Homo sapiens: one gene and its partners. The main gene of each other region encodes a partner of the protein of the gene in region 2 in a complex. Links are inferred from orthologs where the notes say so. Each region holds a gene or a part of one and is shown on either strand. Other genes may lie near its edges. The genes, in order: NFKBIA, RELA, SETD6 and NFKBIB. A codon is read from its position in the direction of its gene.

Evidence for each region.
Region 1: the proteins of RELA (region 2) and NFKBIA are in contact, whole or in part, in a crystal structure (PDB 1NFI), measured with the Homo sapiens proteins. Residues at the interface, in NP_068810.3 of Homo sapiens: Arg50 (codon at 6,102), His181, Lys221, Ser238, Phe239, Ser240, Gln241, Ala242, Asp243, Arg246, Arg253, Asp294, Arg295, Ile298, Lys301, Arg302, Arg304, Thr305, Tyr306, Thr308, Phe309, Ile312; in NP_065390.1 of Homo sapiens: Thr71 (codon at 4,921), Glu72 (codon at 4,924), Asp73 (codon at 4,927), Asp75 (codon at 4,933), Phe77 (codon at 5,558), Leu80 (codon at 5,567), Ala81 (codon at 5,570), Ile83 (codon at 5,576), His84 (codon at 5,579), Glu85 (codon at 5,582), Glu86 (codon at 5,585), Leu89 (codon at 5,594), Leu110 (codon at 5,657), Gln112 (codon at 5,663), Leu117 (codon at 6,007), Ile120 (codon at 6,016), Thr121 (codon at 6,019), Asn122 (codon at 6,022), Phe142 (codon at 6,082), Arg143 (codon at 6,085), Leu150 (codon at 6,106), Gln154 (codon at 6,118), Arg218 (codon at 6,707), Asp226 (codon at 6,731), Leu227 (codon at 6,734), Gln249 (codon at 6,800), Tyr251 (codon at 6,806), Gln255 (codon at 6,818), Leu256 (codon at 6,821), Trp258 (codon at 6,827).
Region 3: the proteins of RELA (region 2) and SETD6 are in contact, whole or in part, in a crystal structure (PDB 3RC0), measured with the Homo sapiens proteins. Residues at the interface, in NP_068810.3 of Homo sapiens: Glu307, Thr308, Phe309, Lys310, Ser311, Ile312; in NP_001153777.1 of Homo sapiens: Ser120, Trp122, Val220, Met221, Ala222, Tyr223, Ser224, Phe225, Gln226, Glu227, Pro228, Pro238, Asn239, Ser240, Pro241, Asn259, Leu260, Tyr262, Asn283, Thr284, Tyr285, Met288, Met296, Tyr297.
Region 4: the proteins of RELA (region 2) and NFKBIB are in contact, whole or in part, in a crystal structure (PDB 1K3Z), measured with the Mus musculus proteins. The link is inferred for Homo sapiens from one-to-one orthologs. Residues at the interface, in NP_033071.1 of Mus musculus: Lys218, Lys221, Ser240, Gln241, Ala242, Asp243, Val244, Arg246, Gln247, Asp294, Arg295, Arg297, Ile298, Lys301, Arg302, Arg304, Thr305, Tyr306, Thr308, Phe309, Ile312, Met313, Ser316, Pro317, Phe318, Gly320; in NP_001293151.1 of Mus musculus: Tyr53, Thr55, Glu56, Asp57, Asp59, Ala61, Leu64, Ala65, Ile67, His68, Gln69, His70, Pro72, Phe73, Phe76, Asn91, Leu93, Gln95, Leu100, Ile103, Leu104, Gly105, Arg125, Val137, Arg275, Leu283, Arg284, Asp306, Lys307, Leu308.

The regions. Positions count from the first base shown.
Region 1 is NC_000014.9:35,401,309-35,409,354, reverse strand, and holds NFKBIA (NF-kappa-B inhibitor alpha), read left to right. Parts: upstream 1-4,605; 5' UTR 4,606-4,710; coding exon 4,711-4,937; intron 4,938-5,556; coding exon 5,557-5,665; intron 5,666-5,994; coding exon 5,995-6,205; intron 6,206-6,495; coding exon 6,496-6,584; intron 6,585-6,691; coding exon 6,692-6,961; intron 6,962-7,294; coding exon 7,295-7,342; 3' UTR 7,343-7,842; downstream 7,843-8,046. UniProt on the Homo sapiens protein: Inhibits the activity of dimeric NF-kappa-B/REL complexes by trapping REL (RELA/p65 and NFKB1/p50) dimers in the cytoplasm by masking their nuclear localization signals.
Region 2 is NC_000011.10:65,659,626-65,668,076, reverse strand, and holds the start of RELA (transcription factor p65), read left to right. Parts: upstream 1-5,160; 5' UTR 5,161-5,244; coding exon 5,245-5,251; intron 5,252-5,499; exon of another isoform or gene 5,500-5,698; intron 5,699-5,729; exon of another isoform or gene 5,730-5,871; coding exon 5,872-5,898; intron 5,899-5,988; coding exon 5,989-6,140; intron 6,141-6,208; coding exon of another isoform or gene 6,209-6,241; coding exon 6,242-6,390; intron 6,391-7,861; coding exon 7,862-7,953; intron 7,954-8,279; coding exon 8,280-8,411; intron 8,412-8,451. UniProt on the Homo sapiens protein: NF-kappa-B is a pleiotropic transcription factor present in almost all cell types and is the endpoint of a series of signal transduction events that are initiated by a vast array of stimuli related to many biological processes such as inflammation, immunity, differentiation, cell growth, tumorigenesis and apoptosis.
Region 3 is NC_000016.10:58,518,038-58,524,518, reverse strand, and holds the end of SETD6 (N-lysine methyltransferase SETD6), read right to left. Parts: coding exon of another isoform or gene 6,469-6,481; coding exon 6,288-6,468; exon of another isoform or gene 6,287-6,287; intron 6,119-6,286; coding exon 5,976-6,118; intron 5,796-5,975; coding exon 5,490-5,795; 3' UTR 3,562-5,489; coding exon of another isoform or gene 3,483-3,561; 3' UTR 3,337-3,482; coding exon of another isoform or gene 3,202-3,336; 3' UTR 1,150-3,201; coding exon of another isoform or gene 1,017-1,149; 3' UTR 677-1,016; downstream 1-676. Other genes in the region: CNOT1 (CCR4-NOT transcription complex subunit 1), read left to right, coding at 1,017-1,149, 3,202-3,336, 3,483-3,561. UniProt on the Homo sapiens protein: Protein-lysine N-methyltransferase. Monomethylates 'Lys-310' of the RELA subunit of NF-kappa-B complex, leading to down-regulation of NF-kappa-B transcription factor activity. Monomethylates 'Lys-8' of H2AZ (H2AZK8me1).
Region 4 is NC_000019.10:38,902,646-38,909,721, reverse strand, and holds the end of NFKBIB (NF-kappa-B inhibitor beta), read right to left. Parts: intron 4,708-7,076; coding exon 4,602-4,707; intron 4,521-4,601; coding exon 4,187-4,520; intron 2,502-4,186; coding exon 2,413-2,501; intron 2,324-2,412; coding exon 2,063-2,323; coding exon of another isoform or gene 2,015-2,062; exon of another isoform or gene 992-2,014; coding exon 890-991; 3' UTR 833-889; downstream 1-832. UniProt on the Homo sapiens protein: Inhibits NF-kappa-B by complexing with and trapping it in the cytoplasm.

The DNA of each region.
Region 1 (8,046 bases), on a different chromosome or scaffold from region 2:
ATTTTTTTTATTTCTTTAACAATAGAAGGTCACTACTGAACTGAAGGTGCTACATGCCAAAAGTTGTCTGAGCTAAGTATGAGGGAAGTACACACCCTGACCTAAGCTGTTGGAGATCCCACTCCTTTCAGACTCAAATGGTCTGTTTCACTCATCTGTGAAATCTGCCTGCTCCCTATGCGTAAGTATTTTGAGTTTGAGATCCTTTAAAGCTTTGATCTCCATTAAATTGCAGAATTTGTAGCAAAGGAAACACATTAAGGATTTGACGGTCTTATTTTCACTTCACTACAAATGAAGGTTCTGACAGCTGTTTTTCCTTTTTTTTTTTTTTAATTGAGACAGAGTCTCTCTCTGCTGCCCAGGCAGGAGTGCAATGGCACGATCTCAGCTCACTGCAACCTTCACCTCCCAGGGTCAAGTGATTCTCCTGCCTCAGCCTCCCGAGTAGCTGGGATTACAGGCATGTGCCATCACGCCTGGCTAATTTTTGTATTTTGAGTAGAGATGGGGTTTCACCATGTTGGCCGGGCTGGTCTTGAACTCCTGACCTCAGGTGATCAGCTCGCCTCAGCCTCCCAAAGTGCTGGGATTATAGGTCGGAGCCACCGCCCCCAGCCTTGTTTTTCTATGGGAAAAGATCCATAGCTTGGGGGCTCCCTGTTCTGAAGAGGATGCAGACAGTTGCTACCACGATAGCAAGAAAGAAGACAACCTGAGACTGAAAGCAGAATATTTAGAATTTCACAGTGGGGCTGCCAGTTGGGAGTGCACCTGCCTTGCTCTTCAGGAACTCTGTCATGGCTCGTCTTTCTTCCAGCCTAGCTGCACTGAGCAATAGGTAGCCTGATTCCAGAGTTGAATTTGCTGTAGCCAAAACAATTTAGTTTTAATTGGCCAGGCCAGTTGACACAGGCCACCCTGCCCTGAGGATTTTGGACCACCTGGCTGAACTTGTAGACTCTCTCCATGGCACTTCAGGCAATAGGTTTTGTCCATACTGTGCTTGTTCCATGCAGGAGGAGTGCCTGAAGTGCCTGCAGCCAAACCAGGCCCTGGCGATGCTCCTTTTCCCATGGGGGTGCTCCTGGAGCATCACTGGCCGTCCTGTCATTTCCTACGGCTGCGTCCTGGGCCAAAATACAAAGCAGCTTTGAGGTGTAACTTATTATTTTGCCTTATGCATTAAAAAGGCCAAATAACATTAAAAATCAGTTATCTAAAGTATTTTGTTTTGTTTTGTTTTGTTTTTTGAGACAGAGTCTCACCCTGTTGCCCAGGCTGGCGTGCAATGGCGCGATCTCGGCTCACTGCAACCTCTGCCTCCTCGGTTCAAGTGATTCTCCTGCCTCAGCCTCCTAAGCAGCATCTGCACCACCACACCCGACTAATTTTTTGTATCTTTAGTAGAGACGGGGTTTCATCATGTTGGCCAGGCTGGTCTCGAACTCCTGACCTCATGATCCACCTGCCTCAGCCTCCCAAAGTGCTGAGATTATAGGCGTGAGCCACTGCGCACAGCCTACAGTTTTAACATTTTTTTTAACGGTTATGTTAGCTAGAATGTTTGACAATGAGGAGGAGAAAAATCTGAGTGCTGAAGGGTCCATAAAGGTCTTTCTTTTTCTTTTTTTTCTTTTTGAGACAGGGTCTCAGTCTGTTGCTCAAGCTGGAGTGCAGTTGTGCCATCATGGCTCACTACAAACTCCACCTCCCAGGCTCAAGCAATTCTCCCACTTCTGCCTCTGGAGTAGCTGGGACTACAGGCACCTGCCACCACACTCTGCTAATTATATTTTTTGTAGAGACAAGAGTTTAGCCTTGTTGCCCAGGCTGGTCTCCAACTCCTGGGTGGCAAGCAATCCTCCTGCCTCAGCAACCCAAAGTGCTGAAATTACAGCAGTGAGCCACAACTCCTGGCCCATAAAGGTCTTTCTAAATCAAAACCAGACCCTCTTGTTGTCTTCTGCCCAGTCTGCTCATGGTTCTAATTTCCAAGTGTATATTCTTTTTCACCCACGTTGTAATGTTTGTTGACTTAAACCATATAGCGCTATAGATGATGGGGAGAAAACCTGTTGGATCACATTATTCAAAACTGTTTCCCAGAGTCGCAGGAAAACAATAGGTACCTCCTTGGAAATCTCCACTGTAGGGACAAGTCATCAAGGCTCAGCACCTCCCAATTTTTGCAAAAGGCACTATGACAAATCAAGGAACGCCTGTGCCTTACTCTTACCACTAGGTGTCACACAAAACAATCAGGAATAAACACCAAGATCCTGAAGGCTACCAGAAATATAAAACCATAGAAGGTGGTGCAAAAAAACCTTATTCCTCAGATATTTTTATTTTTTATAACCATTTTTATACCTGAAGCCAAATATCTTCTTCTGATGTATCCTCTATAATTGGGACATTTAGAGTTTGATGTTTCTGTACTTGTTTAAAAGAAGTGACTATCCCCAGATGGGGGTCAGGGGACACCCACCCTTTATTTTCCCTAACAGTTGGAGTAGAAAATACTTTTGAGTACATTCCAAATTATAGTGTAGTCAGTCTGATTTTCACAGCGTGTTTTCAAAAGTGTTAATACTAAGACTGCTTTGGCCAAATGATTAATATACTGCCAAGGGGTTCCTGGGTAAATTTCTATGCATTTCAGTTTCTTTTTAGGGAAGTAGGAACAATATCTATCTTACAAGATTAGTTCTGAGAACAATGTGGTACATAAGGCGCTGGAATTCTTTCAAAAATTTATACCCTGACATTTCCAAGAGCCATGGTCACCCTTACAAAGGAGAGTTAGGCATGCATTTGTAGACAAGCAATATGACTTTTAAGCTAGAAAAGACCTTAAGTAACATTCAATCTAATCTTATTATAAAAGTTAAGTATACCACAAAAAAGTTAACTGACCTCTCCAACTAATGTGCAGTCAAGTAAAGATAGAACCTGGAATTGAGATGTCCCATTGCAGTCACTGTTTCACCTTGCCTCAATCATTGTAGATTTGCATATCATAAACCTGCAGAGACAATGGTGTCTATCCCTGGGAAGTTTTCATTGTAACATGTGATCATTATTACCCTGGAGGGTCTATCTGATTTTAATTTTTTTCCCTTCATACTTGGTCTCTCTCTATCGAGTCAGATTTCTTTCATTCTAATATTAGGGGAGGGGTGGAGATACGAAGAGAGGGGAAGGATTGGTTAGTACAAGGCCAGTCAAGGTAAAGATGATTGCAATAATCACCAGAAATCTCTGCAGAACTACAGAGGCCTCCTGGGACTAATTCTGAAGAGCTCTGACCGAAGTTTGCTTTATTTTGCCTGTACCAATTCTACCAAGTAGATGAATTCAGTCCATGGCTTGCAGGCTTGGAGGTGGAGGTGGAGTGGAGAGCATAAATTATATTTCTGCAGGTGAAACCAGAGCATAGTGAGCCGAAACCCCTTTCTACCCAGGTGGCGTGAATGGGTCCAACTGCTACTGTCCCCCAGGACAAGAGAGCAAGGAGGGGCGGGCAGGATGGGACTACCTTGAGCCTCCCGCAGGATGCCTGGCAACTACTTTCTTAGTGGTCCTTAAGGTCCAATCGCGGTTAAGGCACTAACTAAACTCATTCTTCAGCCTCCTTCTCTAAGTTCTCCTCGAATTTGGGTGCCCAGAAGTAGGCTCACGATCCTTTTTCTGCGGGAGCACAATGTAGGTCAGATAGCATAAACGAATAGCTACTTATGAACACAATAGCTACTCTGCTATTGCAAGGTATCCACAACCACCACTACAAACATTAACACCTTGCTTTACTTGGGAAACAAAAAAAATCATGGTCCTATTCAGCAGTTTCCCCATACAGGGAGCGTTTGCCCCTCCCCCAGTCAACAGGGCTGTTCATCCCTAGGAAGTGATTTGAGAGTTCTCCAAGGATTTAGGCTTTTCACTCCTCCAAAGCTTTCACAACTTCTACCTGGCGGGGGTGCGTGGGGGGGTGGGGGCGAAGCTAAAAGTTCCTTTGCTGCAAAGAGCCTGGTATAGGCAGAAACACCGGCGCGGCCTGCAGCCCCCTAACCACAGTGCGTCCTTCCCCTTAGAAGTCTGGGGAAAGCAAATCCCTACGCCCAGCCATCATTTCCACTCTTGCGTTTTCAAAAGATCAAAAAACGGAAAGGACCGGCAGGTTGGCAAACCCCAAAGAGGGACCGCCCATCAGGTCGGCGTCCTTGGGATCTCAGCAGCCGACGACCCCAATTCAAATCGATCGTGGGAAACCCCAGGGAAAGAAGGCTCACTTGCAGAGGGACAGGATTACAGGGTGCAGGCTGCAGGGAAGTACCGGGGGGAGGGGGCCTGGTCGGAAGGACTTTCCAGCCACTCGGCGCTCATCAAAAAGTTCCCTGTCCGTGACCCTAGTGGCTCATCGCAGGGAGTTTCTCCGATGAACCCCAGCTCAGGGTTTAGGCTTCTTTTTCCCCCTAGCAGAGGACGAAGCCAGTTCTCTTTTTCTGGTCTGACTGGCTTGGAAATTCCCCGAGCCTGACCCCGCCCCAGAGAAATCCCCAGCCAGCGTTTATAGGGCGCCGCGGCGGCGCTGCAGAGCCCACAGCAGTCCGTGCCGCCGTCCCGCCCGCCAGCGCCCCAGCGAGGAAGCAGCGCGCAGCCCGCGGCCCAGCGCACCCGCAGCAGCGCCCGCAGCTCGTCCGCGCCATGTTCCAGGCGGCCGAGCGCCCCCAGGAGTGGGCCATGGAGGGCCCCCGCGACGGGCTGAAGAAGGAGCGGCTACTGGACGACCGCCACGACAGCGGCCTGGACTCCATGAAAGACGAGGAGTACGAGCAGATGGTCAAGGAGCTGCAGGAGATCCGCCTCGAGCCGCAGGAGGTGCCGCGCGGCTCGGAGCCCTGGAAGCAGCAGCTCACCGAGGACGGGGACTCGTAAGTGGCGGAGGCCCGGGGCTGGGGGTCGTCGGGAGGGCGGGACGCGCGCGGCCTGGGGGTGGGAGGCGCCGGGCCTGGAGCCCGAGCCGGGGGACCAGCGATGCAGCCGGGCGGGCGCCGCGGCACCCCGGGGCTCCTGCACCGCCCCGAACGCTGCAGGGCTGCAGGGCCGCGCGGGGCACCGGCCCAACTCGGAGGGGCGGCGGCTGGGCCCTGGTGGATGGCAGCGTCGCCACACGCCCCCTCCCCCCAGACCCGTCCTCTAGGCCGGGGGCGGGGCGGCAGCGGGGACGCGAAGTCCCCGGTTGCATAAGGCGGGGCGGGAGTTTCTGGCCGCTGGCGGGCGCCGAGCAGCCGGGAGGGGAAGTACAGGGCGTTCCGAGCTGGCGGGAGGGCGGGGCGGTCTGGCCGGCGCCCGCCGGGGCCGCGGGGGGAGGGGGGCGGAAAGTCCCTGGGCGCCTGCCAGGAACACTCAGCTCATAATAACCTCGCGGAAAACACCGCGGCCTCGGCCTCCAGAAACCCCGGCCTTGCGCAATCCCCCGCAGCCCGCGCCTCCCTGGGCCCCACGCGGTGCACTCACCACCCCTGGGGTTTTTCCCTCTCTTCCCCACAGGTTCCTGCACTTGGCCATCATCCATGAAGAAAAGGCACTGACCATGGAAGTGATCCGCCAGGTGAAGGGAGACCTGGCCTTCCTCAACTTCCAGAACAACCTGCAGCAGGTGCGCCGCTTGCCTGGCCCGGGTTCTCTCTGACCCTGGGACGTAGCTGATGTAGCAGAGTCACCCCAGATCCTTTCTGAATTCAGGGCCACTGAGCACTATTTACCCTCACCTTTTACTTCACATCAGCCCACATCCTAGAGAGTGAAGGAAATTCCACTGATTTGGTGAGGTCTTTATGACCCACCTGGAGCCTCTGCTATTTGCCAGCCCTCCCCACCCCCCTGTCTAGGAGGAGCAGCACCCAACCAGGAGACACGGGTTGAGGGGAACTCGGGGTGTGGGTTTGGTCCATGGCTTACTTTCTCTGGTCTCTCTTGCATTCGTAGACTCCACTCCACTTGGCTGTGATCACCAACCAGCCAGAAATTGCTGAGGCACTTCTGGGAGCTGGCTGTGATCCTGAGCTCCGAGACTTTCGAGGAAATACCCCCCTACACCTTGCCTGTGAGCAGGGCTGCCTGGCCAGCGTGGGAGTCCTGACTCAGTCCTGCACCACCCCGCACCTCCACTCCATCCTGAAGGCTACCAACTACAATGGTATGTCTGCCTCCCTGCCCTGCCCCACCCCCTCGGAGGGCAGGTGACGTGGAGAAGGGGCAGGTGGGCCAACTTAAGGAGTCCAGGCAAGAGCTTAAACTCCTAACATTTGGAAGGTTGAGAAAATATGTGTGCAAAGTGCCTATTGGATGCCTTTATAAAGTTCTTTCAGAACCCAGACTGTGGGTTCTTAAAATTCAGAAGATAAGACTACTTGTTCCATAAAAGAATAGGTGAAAGGAGTGAGGGTTGAAACAGGTGGTTATACTTTTTTCCTTTTGTTCTTCCAGGCCACACGTGTCTACACTTAGCCTCTATCCATGGCTACCTGGGCATCGTGGAGCTTTTGGTGTCCTTGGGTGCTGATGTCAATGCTCAGGTTGGTGCTTCCTGCCCCCGACGCACTGAGTCAGGCTCCTCGTGCTTATGTTGTGAGCAGAAATTCCAAATGCAGCCATAAGCATCTCAAATTCCTTTTGGTTTCAGGAGCCCTGTAATGGCCGGACTGCCCTTCACCTCGCAGTGGACCTGCAAAATCCTGACCTGGTGTCACTCCTGTTGAAGTGTGGGGCTGATGTCAACAGAGTTACCTACCAGGGCTATTCTCCCTACCAGCTCACCTGGGGCCGCCCAAGCACCCGGATACAGCAGCAGCTGGGCCAGCTGACACTAGAAAACCTTCAGATGCTGCCAGAGAGTGAGGATGAGGAGAGCTATGACACAGAGTCAGAGTTCACGGAGTTCACAGAGGACGAGGTGAGTCTGTGAACTCCTTCGGCGCTCTAACTAATGAGGTGCCATTCCCTTCACCCTCCCAGGCCCCTAGAGCTGCTCCTTATCAGAGGGGTATCTACATAATGAGTCTCTCAAATTTCTGTGCATAACCAGTATCCCAAGAATGTACCTGCCCCCCCTCTTTTTTTAAAGAGAAGCATTAAAGGCAAACTCTCTCAGCCTGTAAAGTTCATTATATTTGGGCTATGGAGAATGGAGTCCAAGAGTTATTTCCAGTAGTGGCCTCCCCATCCCGGTAGCTTGGCAGAGCTCCGCTCCGGAAGCTTAACGTGTCTTTTTTCCCCTTGTTTTCAGCTGCCCTATGATGACTGTGTGTTTGGAGGCCAGCGTCTGACGTTATGAGCGCAAAGGGGCTGAAAGAACATGGACTTGTATATTTGTACAAAAAAAAAGTTTTATTTTTCTAAAAAAAGAAAAAAGAAGAAAAAATTTAAAGGGTGTACTTATATCCACACTGCACACTGCCTGGCCCAAAACGTCTTATTGTGGTAGGATCAGCCCTCATTTTGTTGCTTTTGTGAACTTTTTGTAGGGGACGAGAAAGATCATTGAAATTCTGAGAAAACTTCTTTTAAACCTCACCTTTGTGGGGTTTTTGGAGAAGGTTATCAAAAATTTCATGGAAGGACCACATTTTATATTTATTGTGCTTCGAGTGACTGACCCCAGTGGTATCCTGTGACATGTAACAGCCAGGAGTGTTAAGCGTTCAGTGATGTGGGGTGAAAAGTTACTACCTGTCAAGGTTTGTGTTACCCTCCTGTAAATGGTGTACATAATGTATTGTTGGTAATTATTTTGGTACTTTTATGATGTATATTTATTAAACAGATTTTTACAAATGAGTTATCCTGATCATTTTCTTCAGGCTGCCGTGGGCCTCCGGTTCTGAAGTTCCATCCTCCGGCAGAGGTGGAGGTGGAGCAGTGTGAGGGAGGAGGTAACTCCCAGCAGCTTCTCACACCTGACACCCAGCCTCCAGCAAAGCTTTGCAGGCACCCTGGGCCCAGTGTGTGGGAGGGAGGCTGTTGCAAGGTTATAGGAAA
Region 2 (8,451 bases):
AAATTAGCTGAGCATGGTGGTGTGTGCCTGTAGTCCCAGCTACTGGGGGACCTGAGGAGGGAGAATCACTTGAGCCTAGGAGTTCGAGCCTGCAATGGGCTATGATCACACCACCACTGCAATCCAGCCTGGATGACAGAGCAAGACTCCCATTTTTTAAAAAATTACTGGCTGGGCATGGTGGCTCACGCCTGTAATTCCAACACTTTGGGAGGCCGAGGCGGGCAGGTCACTTGAGGTCAGGAGTTGGAGACCAGCCTGACCAACATGGAGAAACCCTGTCTTTACTAACAATACAAAATTAGCCGGGCGTGGTAGCGCATGCCTGTAATCCCAGCAACTCGGGAGGCTGAGGCAGGAGAATCACTTGAACCCGGGAGGCGGAGGTTGCAGTGAGCCAAGATCATGCCATTGCACTCCAGCCTGGGCAACAAGAGTGAAACTCTGTCTCAAAAAAAAAAAAAAAAAAAAAAAGTACTAACTATTCACCGAAAACATCTACAATGACTGACTCAGTAGCAATAAGTATCCGAAGTACTCAAGCTGTAGTCTTTAAATATCATTTCCTACTAAGAGAAATCAGGACTCCTTGGAAAGCTGTCTGATTCCAGATCTGGGGCAGAAAATTTACTAGATGAGTCTAGAAATATCTTTTCAGGCCAGGCGCTGTGGCTCATGCCTGTAATCCCAGCACTGTGGGAGGCCAAGGCAGGTGGATCACCTGAGGTCAGGAGTTCGAGACCAACCTGACCAATATGGAAACCCCATCTCTACTAAAAATACAAAAATTAGCTGGGCGTGGTGGCACACTCCCATAATCCCAGCTACTTGGGAGGCTGAGGCAGGAGAATTGCTTGCACCCGGGAGGCAGAGGTTGCAGTGAGCCGAGATTGCACCATTGCACTCCAGCCTGGGCAGTAAGAGCGAAACTCCATCTCAAAAAAAAAAAAGGAAAAAGAAAAGAAATATCTTTTCATACCAAACAGCAAAGAAGCTATCACAGGCTACTGTAATTGCTTTTTTAAAATTATTTTTTTAATAGACATAGGGATCTTGCCATGTTGACCAGGCTGGTCTTAAACTCCTGGCCTCAATCAGTCTTCCCCATTCAGCCTTCCAAAGTGCTGGGATTACAGGTATGAGCCACCAAGACTCATATATTGGAATTGTGTCAAAAGGACTGAAGAACAACCAACTTGAAGAAGTTCTCCCTAACCAAAGACGAATAATTTGAATTTCAATAACTATACTTGATTAAAACACAGCTAATATATTTAAATCCATGCATTCATTAAGATTTTAAAAAACTCAGCCGGGTTTGGTAGTTCATGCCTGTAATCCTAACACTTTGGGAGGCTGAGACAGAAGGATCGCCTGAGCTCAGAGGTTCGAGACCAGCCTTGGCAACATAGCAAGATCTTGTGTCTACTAAAAATTAAAAAAAAGAAATTAGCTGAGTGTGGTGGTGCACGCTGTTAGTCCTAGCTACTTGGGAGGCTAAGGTGGGAGGATTGCTTGAGCCCAGGAGTTTGAGGCTGCAGTGAGCAACGAGTCATGCCACAGCATTCCAGCATGGCGACAGAGTGAGACCCTGCCTCAAAAAATTGTTTTCTTTTTAATTAGCTGTGTGTGGTGGTGAGTGCTTATAGTCCCAGCTACCTGGGAGGCCGAGGTAAGAGGATCCCAACTGATAGGGGCGTTGGTGGGAGAAAAAGTAGGTTTACTGATTTATTCTGAAAGCCAGCAAGACTGAGAGGACGGTGTACTAGCGTTCTAAAGTACCATTTTAAGTCAGTACAATCTTAGGCTCTTTCTATGTTAAGGGCAGGGAAGAGAAGGAGGGTGTGGTCAAGAAGTACCCCATGGCAGACATCTGGGCAGCAGCGAGGGTCTGAGGAGGTTGGGAACTTCTTTGTCCTTGGTCCAGTCACAATGCTCCTATAAATCTTTAAGAAAACATAGTTGTTTACATACTTCTTTAACCCCAGACTAAGTTTTAAAAACTACATGATTGCTGTTTTTATATATTACTCAGTGCTCTAAAGCTTATGGCAGCAAAAAATTAGAAGTCCAAATGCCCATGGCTGGGCACGGTAGCTCACGCCTGTAATAGCACTTTAGGAGGCCGAGACGGGCAGATCACCTGAGGTCAGGAGTTAGAGACCACCCTGGCCAACATGGTGAAACCCTGTCTCTACTAAAAGTACAAAATTAGTCAGATGCAGTGGTTCATGCCTGTAATCCCAACATTTTCAGAGGCTGAGGCAGGTGGATCACCTAAGGTCAGGAGTTTGAGACCAGCCTGGCCAACATGGTGAAACCCCGTCTCTACTAAAAATACAAAAAGTTAGCCAGGCATGGTGGCAGGCACCTGTAATCCCAGCTACTCAGGTGGCTGAGGCAGGAGAATCACTTGAACCTGGGAGGCAGAGGTTGCTGTGAGCCGAGATTGTGCCATTGCACACAACAAGAGCGAAACTCTGTCTCAAAAGAAAAAAAAAATACAAAATTAGCCGGGCATGGTGATGCATACCTGTAATCCTAGCTACTCAGGAGGCTAAGGCAGGAGAATCACTTGAACCTGGGAGGCAGAGGTTGCAGTGAGCCGAGATGGTGCTATTGCACTCCAGCCTGGGCCACAAGAGAGGAACTCCATCTCAAAAAAATAAAAATAAAAATGCCTATCTTCAGGATGAATAAACAAACTGTGGTATATTTACACAACAAAATAGTATACAGCAGTGAAAAAGTGAATTAACTGTGAAACATGAATCATAGTAACAGGTTGAGTGAAAAAAGCAAGTAACAAAGGACAACAAATCATATGATGCCCTCTTCATAAAAGTTCAAAACTGGCTGGGTGCGGTGGCTCACACCTGTAATCTCAGCACTTTGGGAGGCAGAGGCTGGCGAATCACCTGAGGTCAGGAGTTCGAGACCAGCCTGGCCAACATGGTGAAACCCCGTCTCTACTAAAAAAATACAAAAATTAGCTGGGCGTGGTGGTTGGCCCCTTTAATCCCAGCTACTCAGGAGGCTGAGGCAGGAGAATCGCTTGAACCTAGGAGGCAGAGGTTGCAGTAAGCAGAATGCCACTGCATTCCAGCCTGCGCGACAGAGTGAGACTTTGTCTCAAAAAAAAAAAAAAAAAAGTTCAAAACTAAGGAAAACCAAAAGATATATTGTGTAGGCATGCAGATATAACTTTTTTTTTCTTTAAAATACAGAATTCTGGGCCAGGTGTGGTGGCTCATGCCTGTAATCCCACTTTGGGAGGCTGAGGTGGGAGGATCGCTTGAGCCCAGGAGTTTGAGACCAGCCTGGGCAACACAGTGAGACCCATCTCTATTTACAATAAATTAATTAATTAATTAATTTAAAAAATACAGAATTCTGGCCCAGCGTGGTGGCTCACGCCTGTAATCCCAGCACTTTGTGAGGCCAAGCGGGGAGGAAAGTTGAGCTCAGGAGTTCAAGACTAGCCTGGACAACAAGGTTAAACCACTTCTTTACAAAAAATACAAAAACTTAGCCGGGCATGGTGGTGTGCTCCCGTAGTCCCAGCTATGCAAGAGGCTGAAGTGGGAGGATTGCTTGAGCCCAGGAGGTAGAGGCTGCAGTGAGCAGAGATTGTGCCACTGCACTCCAGCCTGGGCGACAGAGACAGACCGTGTCTCAAAAAATAAATAAATAAATAAATACAATACAATACAATACAATACAATACAATACAATACAATACAATACAGAATTCTGGATGGTGGTGGCCCCTTGAGTTTTGCAATGGGTACATGGGTGTTTATCGTATTAATTTAAAAGTTATAAATATACATGAATTTTAAGAAGAGGATCCATGCAAGGTTCAATGATAATTGTATATCATTAACCAAAGATTTTAATTAATCCATTCTGTCACCTGAAGTCGGCCTCCCCCGCCCCCTGCCAAAAGTAAACACTTTTCTAATCAGGGCCAGCCACTGGAGAAACTGAAATGAGTGGGCGGGGTGCTAACTCTATTTTCACTTTTCTCTTCCTGTTTCTTCAGAGCCTGGGAAACAAGTCAGAATTTCCAATCTTTTCCAATTCCCACATGATTTCCTAATTTAAGACGAATTCAGAGAAAATAAAAAAGTCTTTCTCCATCTGGAGAAGACTCCGCCCCCTGCAGTGGAGCATCCTCCTTTGGGGATGAGGCCTGGGGTGGGGGTGCGTCAGCCCCAGCCTCCACACGGACGCGCCTTGGGCTTGGTCTTGGGGGAGCTACCTGCACTGTGGGGTCACATGACAGAATTAGTGGTCAGCCCTAGCTGGAGGTCCAGGGCAAACACAGGCGGGGGCAGGGGGGTGGGGGGTCGTGAGCCTGCTGATTCAAGTGTCCCTGTGGGTCCCGCACCTTCTGAGACACAAGCGCCAGGCTTCAGAGACGAGGCTCCGGGATTTACCCCTGGGGGCCTCCTGCTCCCACAGCCGATGAGAGCCGGCAGTTTGGCTGTATCGTAAGCTGGCGCTTTAGCTGGAGAGGGACGAGCCCTCGGCCAGCTCGCCAGCGGGAGGGCCTCAGTCGTCCCATCCGGGCTGTAGGCTCCGCAAAGCTCTTGATGCACTGTCAGGCTGGGAGGTCCGGCCGCTCCCATTCCCCCACAGCCGCATCTAGATTGGGGTGGGTAGGACATTTTAACGTGCTTCTGAGACAGCCACCACCGAAAGGCACCTTTAGCGGTTAGGAAACCCGCGCGGAGTTCAACCACCCGGCCTCTGCGGAGCAGAAGGCCCGGTCGGGCTTTTCCCTGCGCGGGGCGGGCGGCCGCAGCCCAGTAGCCCTGGCTTTGCTCCAGACCCGGCCCAGAGTGACATCACCAAACTCCGCCGATCGGCGGGAGGGGGCCCTGAAATCCCCTAAAAACAAAGTGAGTAATCGGCGGACCCACCCTCCAGGCGGGGCCGGGACCCGGGAGCTAGCCGAGCCACCGGGCACGCCAGCCTCTTCGTCCTCGGCGAGGCGCGCACTTGGCCCCGACCCCCGGCAGCGGCTGTGCGTGCAGCCTCTTCGTCCTCCGCGCGGCGTGCACTTGCTCCCGGCCCCTGCGCCGGGCGGCGGCGGGGCAGCGCGCAGGCGCGGCCGGATTCCGGGCAGTGACGCGACGGCGGGCCGCGCGGCGCATTTCCGCCTCTGGCGAATGGCTCGTCTGTAGTGCACGCCGCGGGCCCAGCTGCGACCCCGGCCCCGCCCCCGGGACCCCGGCCATGGACGGTGAGGTCGCCCTCTGACCCCGCGGGGTGGCATCGCCGGGGCCGCCGCGGCTGTGGCGGGAGCCCCCGCGCCGCTTTCCGCCCCTTCCTGCGCCGACGGGCGCTGCGCAGGGAGCGGTCGGCCTGCCGGATGGTGGCGCGGGGCGGGGCAGGCGGGGAGGGGTCTGACTCAGTTTCCCCTCTGGGTGGAGGGGGTGGCCCTTGACTCAGCATCCTCCCTGGGTGGGGGAGCAGAGGGAACCTTGACTCAGTTTCCCTCCACACCGTCCATGGGGGCAGCTCTGGCTTCGTTTCCCTATTAGGGGAGAACGCATCTGATTCAGTTTCCTCTCTGGAGGGAGGTGGGGCGTGCCCTCCCTCAATTTTCCTTAAGAAAGTACAACAGGCCCTGATTCAGCTTCCCTCTGGAGAAGAAGGATTCCTTACCCCGTTTTCCCTCAAGAAGCAGGTGTTTCTGGTTCCTTTCCTCCACCCCTTAGTTTCACCGCAGGTTCTAGGGAGCAGGTCCTGACTCAGTTCCCCTGGGAGGGAGCCTGGCTTCTCCTCTCCGTGGAGAGCAGATTCCTCCTTGTGAGAATGGGCATTGGGTGTGTGCTGACCCTGATCTCCCTCCCCTTTCAGAACTGTTCCCCCTCATCTTCCCGGCAGGTAAGTGGCCCCCGCGGCGGTCGGGGAGGTGCTCCCTGGGGTAGGGCAGTGGGGGCAGCCGCCTAATGGGGCTGCGGTGTCCCCTGGCAGAGCCAGCCCAGGCCTCTGGCCCCTATGTGGAGATCATTGAGCAGCCCAAGCAGCGGGGCATGCGCTTCCGCTACAAGTGCGAGGGGCGCTCCGCGGGCAGCATCCCAGGCGAGAGGAGCACAGATACCACCAAGACCCACCCCACCATCAAGGTCAGCACTGCGCCAGGGTGTGCGGGGAAGGGACTGTGGAACCCCAGCCCTCTGTGTTTGGGAGTCAGGTTTGGATGTCTGGGCCTCTGTACTTTGGACAGATCAATGGCTACACAGGACCAGGGACAGTGCGCATCTCCCTGGTCACCAAGGACCCTCCTCACCGGCCTCACCCCCACGAGCTTGTAGGAAAGGACTGCCGGGATGGCTTCTATGAGGCTGAGCTCTGCCCGGACCGCTGCATCCACAGGTGAGGTCCCTGCAGGCTAGGAGGCCCAGCATGAGGGGACAGGAGGCGGGCTATGAAGTAGCCGCTACAGTGTTACTCCTTTCTGGACCCAGGGCAGAATTCCTCACTCCTTGCCCTGACTCAGCTCTGCAAGTAAACTGCCTTTGTCTTGAAATTATCTATTTGTACGTTTACTCTAGCAGATGAGTTCCAGGGGATACGGATGGGTCCCTAATCACTTCTGAATTCCTGACCCCTGTAGCTGGAAGGACAAGTCCCTCAGAGTCACGTCTCTTGTTTGAGGAAGAAAACCATTGAACCAGCACTCTCCCCTGGAGTTGACATTGCAGTTGACAGAGACAGGCTGTAAAAAAATATACAGGCCGGGCATAGTGGCTCATGCTTATAATCCTAGCACTTCGGGAGGCCAAGGCAGGAAGATCTCTTGAGCCTAGGAATTCAAGACTAGCCAAGGCAACATAGTGAGACCCCATGTCTACAAAAAATAAGAAATTAGCTGGGTATGGTGGCATGCGCCTATAGTCCCAGGGAGGCTGAGGTGGGAGGATCGCCTGAGCCCAGGAGGTCACTGCTGCGGCAAGCTATGATTGCACCACTGCACTTGGGTGGCAGGGCGATACCTTGTCTTTTTTTTTTTTTTTTTTTTTTTAAGAAAGAGTCTTGCTCTGTCCCCAGACTGGAGTGCAGTGGCGCGATCTCAGCTCACTGCAACCTCCACCTTCCGGGTTCATGCCATTCTCCTGCCTCAGCTTCCCGAATAGCTGGGACTACAGGTGCCTGCCACCACGCCTGGCTAATTTTTTGTATTTTTTAGTAGAGACAGGGTTTCACCGTGTTAGCCAGGATGGTCTCAATCTCCTGACCTTGTGATCTGCCTGTCTTGGCCTCCCAAAGTGCTGGGATTACAGGCTTGAGCCACCGCACCCGGCCCGACACTGTGTCTCTTAAAAATAAATAAATACACAGATAAATAAACAAGGTGCTGTCAGAGTAACAGTTTCAGTCCTGAAAATAAAACGAGGTCATAGGATAGAAGGATAACCTGGGGTGGGGGAGTTAGGGGAGCTGGTGTGTGATGACTTTAGATTGGGAGGTCAGGGAAGGCCTCCCTCAGCTAAGACTTGAATGGTGAGAAGGAGGAGAGAAGTAGGAAAAGAACATTCCAAGCCGACCAAACAAGTGCAAAGGCCTTGAGGTGGGAATGAGTGTCCTGTGTTTAGAGAGTGGAAAAGGAGCCCCGGTGGCTGTAAGCAGGGAGCCCACAGGGAGGCTGGCAGGGGCAGGGGCACGGAGGTGCTTGTCAGCTGAGTGAAGGGACAGGGTTCGTTGCAGCACAGTAGGAAGCCACTGGAGAGGGTTAGGCATGGAGCGATGATCTAGGGGTGGGCAGAGTAGGAAGGAGCAGGCTGGGCAAGGCAGGAAGGTCTGGGCTCTGTGAGAGACAGTGGGACAGACGACTGGGGGCGCTCAGTTTCCAGAACCTGGGAATCCAGTGTGTGAAGAAGCGGGACCTGGAGCAGGCTATCAGTCAGCGCATCCAGACCAACAACAACCCCTTCCAAGGTGAGGGCAAACCTGCCTGCCACACCCGCACCCTCTGTCACCCTCCCCAGCCCGCCTTTCCTGCATCTCCCTCACTGGCCAAGACACAGTAAAGCTGGAATCTTGGTGCCCATTCAGTACTCTCCCACTTTACCACTGGGAAACTGAGTCCCAGGAGGGGACATGACATTCAGGCCACAGTGGAGTCAGTGCTGGGTTCTGCCTCCTCTAGGACTTGTGTTTCACACACGCACCAGCGGCCCTCCCAGCGCAGAGCTCCCTGCCCCCACTGATAGCACCTATATCCCCACTTCCCCTGCTCTCCTGATCGCCTGTTTTCTTGGCAGTTCCTATAGAAGAGCAGCGTGGGGACTACGACCTGAATGCTGTGCGGCTCTGCTTCCAGGTGACAGTGCGGGACCCATCAGGCAGGCCCCTCCGCCTGCCGCCTGTCCTTTCTCATCCCATCTTTGACAATCGTGAGTAGCGAGGGAGACGCAGGAAGGGGAGAGGGTGGGC
Region 3 (6,481 bases), on a different chromosome or scaffold from region 2:
ACAGCTTAAATTCAAGATATAACAAAATTGAATACCATCACGTCCAAGAGCTCGGCAATAAAAGGACGGCAGCCTTTAGAGAAACGTGTCACTGTGACAGACTCACAAACACGAATAATGTCAAGCAGAGGCAAACAACCAAACCCAATTAAGATAATACTTATTCCAGTGTAGTTTAGACTAATCAAAATGTGGGCTGGGTACCCTTAGGGTGTCAAGACCTTTTTAGGAGGGCTGTGAGGTCAAAACTTTTTTTTTTTTTTTTTTTTGCGATAGAGTCTTGCTCTCACACCCAGGCTAGAAGGCAGTGGCGCAATATCGGCTCACCATAACTTCCGCCTCAGGGGTTCAAGCGATTCTCCTGCCTCAGCCTCCCGAGGAGCTGGGATTACAGGCACACGCCACCATGCCCAGCTAATTTTTATGTATTTTTAGTAGAGATGGGGTTTCACCATGTTGGCCACGCTGGTCTTGAACCCCTGACCTCAAGTGATCCACTTGCCTCAGCCTCCCAAAGTGCTGGGATTACAGGCGTGAGCCACCGTGCCCGGCCCAAAACTGTTTTCATCATAAAACAACATTTACATTTTTGGGTCTATTCTGTCATGAGTGTACAGTTGAATTTCTCAGAGGTTACATGAAATATACTGTAACAAGTTGAACACAGAAGCAGAAATGAGAATCCAGCTGTCTTTTATTAAGCAAGACTTAGAGATCTGCAAAATGTAGAAAGACTTAGTGATGAGTGTCACCAGAAAATAGTTCATGTTTCTTACATTAGCACATAGTGGGTCTGTTTTTAAAAATGAATATTTTTAAAATCTAATTTCTAATGTGGAAAATTCTGAAATAAAACGCACAGAAATGAGAACTCTTTGGGGTCCCAAGAACCACTGCTTTAAACCAAAGATTAATTTGAAAGCCTCTGTCAGAAACCCAAACCCTAGCCAGTTAGAACTGTCTTCCCATGTTGGCCTTTCAGACTAAGTCCTAAGTCAAGGTTTCTTAATTTCTAGGTCGCTATCTCTTTTTGAATGCAATTGCAAATCAGCTCCGGTACCCAAATAGCCACACTCACTACTTCAGTTGCACCATGCTGTACCTTTTTGCAGAGGCCAATACGGAAGCCATCCAAGAACAGATCACAAGGTAAGCGAGCAGCTTATTTTTTAAATGCTTCAAAAGGATCTCCTCCCTTTCATCTTTTTTTTTTCCTCTTTATGCTTTCAGTGTTCAGTGAAAATCCGTTTGGTTGGTTTTTTTTTTGTTTTTTTGAGACGGAGTGTTGCTCTGTCACTCAGTCTGCAGTACAGTGGCGCCATCTTGGCTCACTGCAACCTCCGCCTCCCAGGTTCAAGCGATTCTCGTGCCTTAGCCTCTCAAGTAGCTGGGATTACAGGCGCCTGCCACCACGCCCAGCTAATTTTTGTATTTTAGTAGAGACGGGGTTTCACCATGTTGGCCAGGCTGATCTTGAACTCCTGACCTCAAGTGATCCACCCGCCTCAGCCTCCCAAAGTGCTGGGATTACAGGCGTGAGCCACTGCACCCGGCCTTCAGTGAAAATCTTTTACATGTCCAATAATGTGTTAAATGTGGGATACAATTGTGAGCAAAATGGATGGTTCCTGCCCTCTTAATACTCATTCTGATGGACATTTATCACAAGATAGGGAATTATAAATCGCAATCATGGCTTAAATGAAAAGTAGTTTACCACAAGGCACATTTTGATTAAAGGTCAGGAGTTTCTCTGAGGTGGTGGTGATAACCAGTCCTAAATCATGCAGGCCTATGAAGTCTATGTTAAGGAACTTGGACTTTTCCTCATTACCTCTGGGTTGAAAGCAGTAGCAATAACAGGATCATACTTGCATTTTCCTAACAATAGTTAGGAATCTGTTGCCAGATTGCCTAGACTACATATAGCATTAGAGAGATTGTGATACACACACACACACACTTTAAAAATTGGGCCAGACTCTTAAAACTTGCTCATTTGCCTAATTAGTCACCTATGGTGCTAAATATGGTATTCCTTTGATTTGTGTACTAAAATTTAATATCTTATTGGATGCTTAGATGATGATGATCCATTTTGTTTATATAAAGCTGCAGTAAGTCTCCTTGGACTTGTAATCTTTGTTATGCTTCATGTACAGTTGGTACGTGAAAGGATATAAAGTTAAGCCAATGCTTACTGGCATTCGGAAAAATTTTACCAATTTACATGTGAACTAGCAATGTTAGCTTTTTTTTTTTTTTTTTTTTTTTTTTTTTTGAGACAGTCTCGCTTTGTCGCCTCCTGAGTAGCTGGGATTACAGGCACCTGCCACCACGTCCGGCTAATTTTTTGTATTTTTAGTAGAGACGGGGTTTCACCATCTTGGCCAGGCTGGTCTTGAACTCCCGACCTCGTGATCCACCCGTCTTGGCCTCCCAGAGTGCTGGGATTACAGGCGTGAGTCACTGTGCCCAGCCTGCAGTGTTAGAATACTTAATTCTTATTTTCTGTTTCCTTTTTATTGAGAGTGAGCTTATTTATTTATTTAATTTATCTGTTTATTTGAGACAGGGTCTCACTCTGTCTCCCAGGCTGGAGTGCAGTGGCACCATCTCGGCTCACCACAACCTCCACCTACTGGGTTCAAGCGATTCTCCTGCCTCAGCGTCCGACTGCTGGGATTACAGGCATGTGGCCACCATGTCTGACTAATTTTTATATTTGTAGCAGAGATGGGGTTTCACCATGTTGGCCAGGCTGGTCTCGAACTCCTGACCTCAGGTGATCCACCTGCCTCGGCCTCCCAAAGTGCTGGATTACAGGCATGAGCCACTGTGCCCGGCCTGGGAGCTCATTCTGGAAATTACTACTTTTTGTACTAACTTTGTGTGCCATGTACTCTGGGCTTTATGTGGCTTCCTCTCCCCCATCACCCCTTATTCTGAACAGCTGTGAGGTAGATACCATTATCTGCACTTTATATAAATACTTAGTCTTCTACGGCTAAGAGCAGGGTTCAAACCCAGGTATTCCAACCTGTGCTATTTGGAGTATATTAATCCACCTGTCTTTACTAAAGGTGAAAACTTTTGCATGTGGTTCAATAGTCAGGGAGAAGTTAGAAAAAAAGTAATGGAAGAATAATCATGAATTTGTATGCTTCTATACATTAACTAGCTCTTTCTCCCTTTTTCCAGAGTTCTCTTGGAACGGTTGATTGTAAATAGGCCACATCCTTGGGGTCTTCTTATTACCTTCATTGAGCTGATTAAAAACCCAGCGTTTAAGTTCTGGAACCATGAATTTGTACACTGTGCCCCAGAAATCGAAAAGTGAGTTCAAAGTAATTTTTAATTGTCTAGGAATGAGACTGGAGACTGAAAACCATCTGTCTCTAGGTTGGGTCAGCTGAATGAGATGCAAGGTATTGTTAGGCCTACTCTTTAATCAGAGATTTGTAACTGTCTTCATCCTTCAGGTTATTCCAGTCGGTCGCACAGTGCTGCATGGGACAGAAGCAGGCCCAGCAAGTAATGGAAGGGACAGGTGCCAGTTAGACGAAACTGCATCTCTGTTGTACGTGTCAGTCTAGAGGTCTCACTGCACCGAGTTCATAAACTGACTGAAGAATCCTTTCAGCTCTTCCTGACTTTCCCAGCCCTTTGGTTTGTGGGTATCTGCCCCAACTACTGTTGGGATCAGCCTCCTGTCTTATGTGGGCACGTTCCAAAGTTTAAATGCATTTTTTTGACTCTTGGCCAAAATTTAGAAGATGCTGTGAATATCATTTTGAACTTGTGTAAATACATGAAAGAGAAAACCTTTGTCTGGAACTTCTTGGCTTTGTGCAAGCTGTGTCCAAGGCAAGTACATAAACTGGTACCTTGTAATGAAGAGGCAGCTGATGCCATGCACTTGTCTGAGGGCATAGCTCCATGTCTTCTGACATTCCTGGTGTCCCAAAGAATAGCAAAAAGCCAGTTTGAATATTATGTAACTTATTTTTTTAATGTGGACAGGGGACCTTGAAAATCACTAAGTTATTAAAAATGTGGATGTGCTAGAATTGGATATGTCCAGGAACATGGGAAGGGCTCACTATTGGAATCCCATGAGTTTCCATTTTGTCTCTACCCAAACGTATTCCAAAGCTGACTGCATTTGTACCATCTTATTTCTTTTGGGGATTATACACCTCAGCCGCCTGAGATGGGGGTCAGCTCTTTATATAAAGGGAAACCAGACCAGGCCTAAAGCCCACCCCTACCCTCACCCCCCCAATCCTCTCCTGAAACTTAAAAACAGTGGGAATATAGGAAAGGGAACCAAATCTCATTAATTAATTGTTCTCCCCCATTACCCCACTGAATGAATGGCCATACAGGCTAAGCTGAATAATGACAAAGTTGAAAGGACCAATACAGCCCCTTTTATAAGGATTTTGAATGTTTTGCAAATGTATTGGTCCCTGTGTTGTATTTTGTAGCCTTTTCCTGGGCTTCAGCTCCCCTACTTCTTGTATGTGTATGCATACTGTAGCTAACCATTAAAGTCATGACACACACATGAGTCCACTGTGCCTTTCTCAGTAGCAGCAGCCAGTGCTGGTGGTGAGGAGGAAAAGTGGACAATCCAGCCCTGCAGACCTTGGGGCCATGGGGAACCACCAACTAACTTCTTGCTGAATGATTGATTGATTGATTGATAGGTCATTCCTACTACTAAGCTGGCATGTTTAAGGAAATTGTATTTTTCTTCCTATTTATTTCAACACTGGACAAATGCTGGAGCAGGTTTATCTGGTTAAGCTGAGTTTAAAATACCCAGTTTTAATATCCTTTTCCCCCAGGTATTTTTTTTTTTTTTTTAAAGAAAATGAGTAGATACGTATTTAAAAACTTAACCCACTTAAAATTTGCCTTACCTTTCATGACTGTCAAGTTTTATGGCCAGAGAGGACAAAACAGTTCAAAATTAAATAATTGAAGTCCTCCTTGAGTGATGTCTTAGGGTTTATTCCCTGAGAGGTGGTTTGTGCCATCTAGACTGAACTTTGGGTAACTATCGAGTACCAGTTACACAGCTTATTAAATCCAGAGTCTTTTCAATAAAGGTTAAGTGACTTCCTCAAACTAGACTTAGATTTAAACCAGGGGTCTACCTCCAAAGTCTATTATTAAATGCTGAAACACAACAAGACTTACTTATTACTACCGTATGTCCACTGGCTTTGGTTAAAACTGAGAACAAAACATCTGTAACATGCTTTAAGTAACAATTAGCAGTGATTCCCAAGTCTGCTGTTCTCAATCCTAAAACACATCACCCTTACCTGAGTTAATCCTAGCACACCAACTTTGCTACTTTTCCTCTTGGTGTTTAGTAAGCAAAAGAAAGATCCAAATTTTCCTCTTTTTCAAACATCAATGAGTATTAGCTTAGAATAAAGTTCTTATTGCTGTTCCTTCAGGGAACAGGGAAACTGCTAACTTGTCAGCTCCAACAACTGATGTAAGATCATCTTCTGACCATAGCGAACCTGTAAGGCTTGCTGTTCCCTCCAGCTGAGTTTCGCATAGACTTCCTTATTACTGAGTAAACCTTGGTCAGTTTTTAAGTCTGTGGCATAGGTCTGCAAAGTCAGTAGAACACTGTTTTGAAGCAGCTGTCTCCACGATGCTTTGAGCTTGGGAATATTTGTGATCGTCAGGCTGCCCTCTTCCCTTTTATCATCTCCCCCTCCATCCTGGTCTTTAAGCTCTCTGAACTCCTCAGCAGGCATGCACAGTACCTAGAAGCAACCACAGAGCTCTTTAATTAGATGTACTGCTTTTGTACTTCTGAAATGACTCAGGAGACTAAACTCATCTTAGCATTTATTAAAAATCCCACATTTCCTCTCTCATCTTCTAGCTATTTTGCTTTAAATACTTAGATTATCAGCATTAAATGGCCATTTTCAGCCGTTTACCTTTAGTGTGGTGGTCAGCTCCTCTTCAGTCAGCACCTCCTCCCTCCCTATCACAAAGGCTCCCTCTTCCCCTACCATCTCCAGTTTGCATAGGAAATCCCAGCGCTCGTACACTAGGTGCCTTTCAGCTTCAGTTTTTGTTCCTGTAGATGAAACAGCAATGTGAAAGTCTCAGTACACCCAAGGGTTCATTTCTTCTTTAGTCTGCCACCCAGTCTACAAAGTCAACTGCTATTTAGCAAAGCTATTTAACCTGAGGCATGGGTATAGACACACCATCAGTGTCAAATATTGAGTTAATGATACACTCACCCTGTAATGCTGCCTCACGAACTGTCACCATCTGAATGTCAGCTGTGTCATCTGTGTTGTCAGGATATGGTTCAACAAAACCGTACATATGAATCAGTTGCCAGTTAGCCATTTGCCCATAAGTGTTGAAAATCTCATGGCCTTTAGGAATGGGCTGAGTGGCTACCATCCGAAGACAATTCTGAGGTGAAAGG
Region 4 (7,076 bases), on a different chromosome or scaffold from region 2:
GCATGCCTGTAATCCCAGCTACTCGGGAGGCTGAAGCAGGAGAATCACTTGAACTCGGGAGGTGGAGGTTACAGTGAGCCGAGATCGTGCCACTGTACCCCAGCCTGGGTGACAGAGCGAGACTCCATCTTAAAAATAAAAATAAAGCGCCATCACGAGGTGCTCATCCCAGGCACCTTTGCCAGTGCCAAGCTACTGCTGTTGGCTGTGGTCGCGTTAGCCAGCACCACTCTTCCGGGGTTATGGCAATCAGCATGGTCACCATCGCGGTCCACGACGATCAGAACGACCGCTGCTGGATGCCACTATGAGAACCGACATGGCCCACAATCACAGTGACCGAGGTGGCCTGCCTTTGAAGGTGGGTGCTGACTACCCCGTTTCTGACCCCACCAGGAAAAGGAGGTGGAGCAGCTGGAGCACTTGAGAGACGAACTGAAGAAGGTGACAGAGACGCTGGGGGAGCAGCTCAGGAGGGAGGGCTGACCCCTACCTCAGTCCCTCCTTCCTCCTGACACACCCTGTGGCTTAGGACTGTTGACCCCGAAGCCTCCACCTCACCTAGCACCCCACGCCACCCCTACCCAAACAGGGGAGGAGGCGGACGTGCCTTGGAACCACACCCAAGGAGGTGAGTCTGAGCTGGGCCGGGGGCTGGGCTCAGCCCTGACACAGGAAGCACCCCCACACCTATGCACTCCCACTCCAACCCTTCTGAGTGAATAAAGCACAAAGAAACGCACCCTGCCTCCGTGAGCAGCACTTGATGTGACAGGGATGGGCCCCAGAAGGACCCGGAGGACTGGGAAGACAAGATCAGTCTGGTCTCTGGTTGTCAGAACTAGGGTTTTGTTTATTAAACTGGAAATTATATTAACAATGAAACAAATCACACGGGGCGGGGGTCGTCAGGAAGAGGTTTTGAGGCTGGGGTGGGAGGCAGCCGGGTTTGGCTGCGGCTGCTGTGAACCACAATGTCGTCGTATTCATCCTGGGGGCAAAGGGGACCAGGCAGAGGGGCTCAGGCGGCTGTCACTTTGCCCACCACCCATGTCCTCATAGAGCACCCTAAGAATTAGGTCTCGCCTCAAAGCCCAAGTTCCCCTGCTCCTGGCTCAACCTCCCAGTTTCCTAGCTCTCAGAACTCCATTTTCTTTTCTTTCTTTTTTTTTTTTTTTTTTTTAAGATGGAGTCTCGCTCTGTTGCCCAGGCTGGAATGCAGTGGCGTGATCTAGGTTCACTGCAACCTCCACCTCCCAGGTTCAAGCAATTCTCCTACCTCAGCCTCCCAAGTAGCTGGGATTATAGGCATGCGCCACCACGCCCAGCTAATTTTTGTATTTTTAGTAGAGACAGGGTCTTGCCATGTTGGCCAGGCTGGTCTCGAACTCCTGACCTCGTGATCTGCCTGCCTCGGCCTCCCAAAGTGCTGGGATTACAGGCGTGAGCCACCGCACCTGGCCAGAACTCCATTTTCAAGGTCATTTCTACAGACCAATTTCTAGCCAGCCGCCACTCCAGAGTTTCGGCAACTGAGCTGGCCCTCCTCCACCCCTTCCCTCTGCCTTTACCCAAATTCCTCCGCACCCATCATCCAGCACCGCGCCTTGCCCAAGGACGGATCTGTATTGCTGGGTTCTCTGACTATATCTCTCCCCACCGCTGGCTCGGGTCCTGCCCCAGCACTGCCGGTGTTCAAATCACTGCCACCCAAGGTTTTCTTTTCGCAGTGTGAGTTCTCCAATTCTTGCTGCCTAAAATCACCCCCAGCGCTACCACCCACCCCCGCTGTGTTCACCAATCACTGCGACCAACGCCTTTTCTCCACCCCTGCCTGAGTTCTACCTTTGCCACTGCCTTAGTTTTTCAGCCACTTCTGCCCAAGCTCTTCCCACCACCCCTGTCCAGGTCTCTCCTGACTAGTGCCCCGTGTCACTGGCGCTGCTGCCTGAGTTCTCTAACAGCAGCCCAAGGTCGGTGCCTAATTATCTTCTTGGGCTTCTTGCCTGCCGGTCTATCCTGACCCCCCAGCTGGGCTGCCCTGTCTCTCCTCCTGACTCACGCCCTCGTCTCCGCTGTCGCTGTCGCTACTGCTGCTGCAGGGGCCGGATTTCTCGTCCTCGCCCTCGGGCTCAGGGGCTCCGTGTGCACGGAGGAGGCGGGCGAGGATGGGGTTGGGCCGGAGCATGGCACTGCCGAGTGGGGTGCGGCCACCGTACATGCGGGCAGCAGGGTTCGCGCCTGCCCTCAGGAGAAGCTCCAGCACATCGGCTGCCTGGGCCTCCACTGCCAAATGAAGGGGGCTCCGGCCGCACGTGGGCTCCTGTGGGGGTGCAACAGAAAGGTCAGAGGGCCCGAAGAGGGGACAAGCCCCCTCCCGCCGACGGCATCTTCCCCGAGGTTGGGGCTCACCGGTTTGTCAAGGTCAGCTCCAGCATCTCGGAGCAGCCGGACCATCTCCACATCTTTGTGGATAACGGCCACGTGGAGTGGGGTGTGGCCTGGGGACAGAGTGATTGGCGTCAGATGATGAGGTGAGGGCCCCCCCCACCCCACCGTGCTTTGATCCTGGGGGAGGGTCATGTGGCGTGAGGGTGATTAGGTTTGGGGGCTGGTTCCTGAATTCTTGGGTATGGCAAAGAGGTACCTGGGTACCAAATGCCTATCTCAGATGGCCTGAGCTTGCTGGCAAGTGCTAGTGCCTGAGTTGTTTGAAGCCTGGGGCCCGCGGGTAAACAGCCTGGGGTCTGTGGACAGGGAGCCTGGATTTTGGGGCCAGGAGGAGACCCAAGTCTCTGCTCTTATCACTCAAAGGACCTGAGCTGGCACGCTATTTCACACCTGTAATCCCAGCACTTTGGGAGGCCAAAGCAAGAGGATCACTTGAGCTCAGGAGTTCAAGAAGCTGCCTGGGCAACATGGCAAGACGTCTCTACTAAAAATAAAAAATAAAGGCCAGGCACAGTGGCTCACGCCTGTAATCCCAGCACTTTGGGAGGCTGAGGCGGGTGGATCACGAGGTCAGGAGATCGAGACCATCCTGGCTAACATGGTGAAACCCCATCTCTACTAAAAATACAAAAAATTAGCTGGGCATGGTGGCGGGCGCCTGTAGTCCCAGCTACTCGGGAGGCTGAGGCAGGAGAATGGTGTGAACCCAGGAGGCGGAGCTTGCAGTGAGCTGAGATGGCGCCACTGCACTCCAGCCTGGGCAACAGAGTGAGACTCCATGTCAAAAAAAAAAAAAAAAAAAAACCTTAAATTAAGGTTCCTGCCCAGGCACGGTGGCTCACACCTGTAATCCCAGCACTTTGGGAGGCCATGGCGGGCAGATCACCTAAGGCCAGGCCAGGAGTTCAAGACCAGCCTGGTCAACATGGTAAAACCCCGTCTCTACTAAAAATACAAAAATAAGCTGGGCATGGTAGCATGTGCCTGTAATCCCTGTAATCCCAGCTACTCGGGAGGCTGAGGCAGGAGAATCACCTGAACCTGGGAGGTGGAGGTTGCAGTGAGCCAAGATCACGCCACTGAACTCCAACCTGGCAACAGAGTGAGACTGTCTCAAAAAAAAAAAAAAAAAAAAAAAAGGTACCAAGTAGCTGAAAAGCCTGTGACCTGGGGGCGAGAGGCAGGCCCTGAACACTGGGTCCTGAATGACGTCAGTCCATCTGAGGAGGGGTCTGGTCTCAGGTGGCTGGGCTTATAGGCAGGGGAGCAGAAACTTGGATGTCAGGGCTGTGGGCAGATGAGCCCTTCTTCCCATGAGGCTGAGGAGGGCTGTCTCTGAACCCTGCTGCCCATTGCTGGGAGCCTGGGGTGCCAGAGTTTCACAGAGGGCCTGAGCTCTGCATTCCCCGGTCCTGGGTAGGGTAGGGGTCTGCAATACACTCTGCAGGTGGGGAGCCCGGGGGCCCGACAACTGGATCCTGGCAGCTCTGGGTCTGTGGGTGACAGGTCTGCATCCCAAGTGACCTGGGGCCTCCAGGTGGGGGTCCTGGGTCCTACATATCCAATTCTCAATCATCTGGGCCCTGAGTGGAGGTCCCTGGTCCCGATGTGTGGGCTCCTGAAGCCTAGGCATGATTTCCCAAGGAGCTCAGTCTCAAATCAGGGAAGCTGAGCCCAGGGCCAGGTGCTCTCGCCTAGCCCAGGAGCTGAGTCCTTCCCTGGTGACGACCCTCACCCTCGTAGTTTTCAGCCTCCAGCTGCAGCTTCCAGTCCTCCTCACTCTCCTCTTCTTCCTTCTCCAAGTCGGAATCGGGGTACAAGGCGACAGGGGTATGGTTGGTGTCGGGAGTACGGTCAGGGCCCTGAGCGAGGTAGGTGTCGGGGGCTTCCCTGGGGCGCCGGGGGCGGGGCTGAAGCAGGGCACGGGCACAGGCGTGTGCCCCCACACGGCAGGCCAGGTGCAGCGCCGTGTGGCCCCTACGCTCCGCCACACACAGCCCGGCGCCTGCTGCGTACAGCTTCTCCACCGTGGATGTCTCCCCCAGGATGGCTGCCAGGTGCAGGGCTGTCTGCAGAAGCAGAGGACAGGCGGTAGGGAGTCACACTGGGAACCCTGGACCCCAAGCCCTACACCATCCCTCGTGGCTCACCTGGCCTAGGTCATTCTGCAGGTCCATGTACTCAGTGCCGGCCGAGAAGCCTAGAAGAAAATCCAGGAAGGGTTCATGCTGATGAATCACAGCCAAGTGCAGTGCCCTGGGGACAAAGACCGGGGTGAGAGGGCAAAGTTCAAGTCCTCTTGCATTCCTTCATTGAACAAACATGGGGCGCCTACTGTATGCTAGGCCTTGTGACCACAGTTCTGGAACCCCCTGTCAGCTATCTGGGAGGTCAGAGGTCAGAGTTTCATCAGCAAATTCGTGGAATCAATGTTTATTCAGTGGGATTTCCACTTCTGCCCAAAATGAAGTAACATGGACCAGAATTCACTCCCACGTGAAACAAACAAACAAACAAACAAGAGTCAGACGAAATACGGTATATGAAGCAACAGTGTTGAAGACACTGGACATCGTGCAATGAATCACAGTGACCCCTGAAAGACAGGAAACACGAGGTGGGCCCCACACTTGACTGCCACAGCTTATTGTCTTGAGAGAGTTTCAAAGCCACGGTGCAGAGAGGGGAATCCAAGCAGAGCGCATCAGGTTGTCTGAGGTCAGGAGATGGATATGGAGGAAGAGTCTGTGGAGGCCAGCGTGGCTAGAGTCACAGGACAGAGTACAAAACAGAGTTGCCAAAGGAGAGATTGCTGGGGAACTGCAGGAGGTTCTCTTGTGTATTCCGGAGAATACGGATCAGCCATGCCTGTGAGTCTGTGGGGATGGGAAAACCATCCAAAAGGATTTCAGAAAAGTGCTCGTTACTCACACAGGGCCAGGAATAGTGAGTGTTCCCACCAGCCAGGCTGGAAAAACATCATCACAGGCTATCGGGTGGGATACTCAGGAAGGTCTTGCCTCAATAGTGGGGAATAATTAACTGTAGATGGGGCACTGCTCAACACCCACCTAACAAATCATAAAAGCAAAACTGGAAAGACTCAAACTACTTCCGAGTAATTTAACTCCATCCCAGAATAATATTCAAGAATATTTATTTATTTATTTATTTATTTATTTATTTTAATTTTTATTTTTTGAGAGAGAGTCTTGCCCTGTCGCCCAGGCTGGAGCGCAGTGACACGATCGTGGCTCACTGCAACCTCCACCTCCTGGGTTCAAGCGATTCTTCTGCCTCAGCCTCCCGAGTAGCCGGAACCACAGGTGCGTGCCACCACACCTGGCTAATTTTTGCAGTTTTTAGTACAGACAGGGTTTCACCATGTTGGCCAGGCTGATCTTGAACTCCTGACCTCGTGATCCACCCGCCTTGGCCTCCCAAAGTGCTGGGATTACAGGTGTGAGCCACGGCGCCCGGCCTCAAGAATATTTATAGGAATACAGAATTCTCCAGACTAACAAGGCAAAATTCACAATGTCTGGCACCTAACCAAAGATTATCAGGCATGTAAAGAAGCAGGAAAACATGATCCATAATAGGAACCATCAGTGAATTGAAACTGACCCAGAAATGACAGAGATGTTAGAATTTGCAAACAAGAATATTAAAACAGTTCATTATGCTGGGCACGGTGGCCCACACCTGTAATCCTGGCACTTTGGGAGGCCAAGGCGGGCAGATCACTTGAGGTCAGGAGTTTGAGACCAACCTGGCCAACACGATGAGACCCTGTCTCTACAAAAAATACAAAAAAAATTTAGCCAGGCATGGTGGCATGCGCCTGTAATCCCACCTACACAGGAGGCTGAGGCAGGACAATCATTTGAACCTGAGAAATGGAGGTTGCAGTGAGCTGAGATCGTGCCACTGCACTCCAGCCTGGGCAACAGAGTGAGACTCCGTCTCAAATAATAATAATAAAATAAAATAAATTTCTTTTACTCTATGTGAAATGGCATAATATCACTTTAAGGTAGCCCATGATAACCTAAAGTTGTAAACTATCAACCCTACAGCAGGAGTCAGCAAACTTTTTCTGTAAGGAGCCAGATAACTATTTTAGTCTTTGTAGGTCATATGGTTTCTCTTTTTGGTTTTGTTTTTCTTTTTCTTTTTTTGTTTGTTTGTTTTGTTTTTTTGAGATGGAGTCTCGTTCTGCTGCCCAGGCTGGAGTGCAGTGGCGTGATCTCAGCTCACTGCAACCTCCGCCTCCCGGGTTCAAGCGATTCTCCTGCCTCTCAAGTAGCTGGGATTACAGGCGCTCGCCACCACTGCCAGCTAACTTTTTGTATTTTTAGTAGAGACAAGGTTTCACCATGTTAGCCAGGATGGTCTCGATCTCCTGACCTTGTGATCTGTCCGCCTTGGCTCCCAAAGTGCTGGGATTACAGGCATGAGCCACTGAGCCCAGCAGCCATACAGTTTCTTTTGACTACTCGACTCTGCTGTGTCAGTGCAAAAGCAGCCACTGACAATATGTAAATGAGTGAGCTTGCTTGCGTTCCAAAAGAACTTTATTTATGGAGCTTGAAATATGAATTTCATACACTTTCACTTGCCAT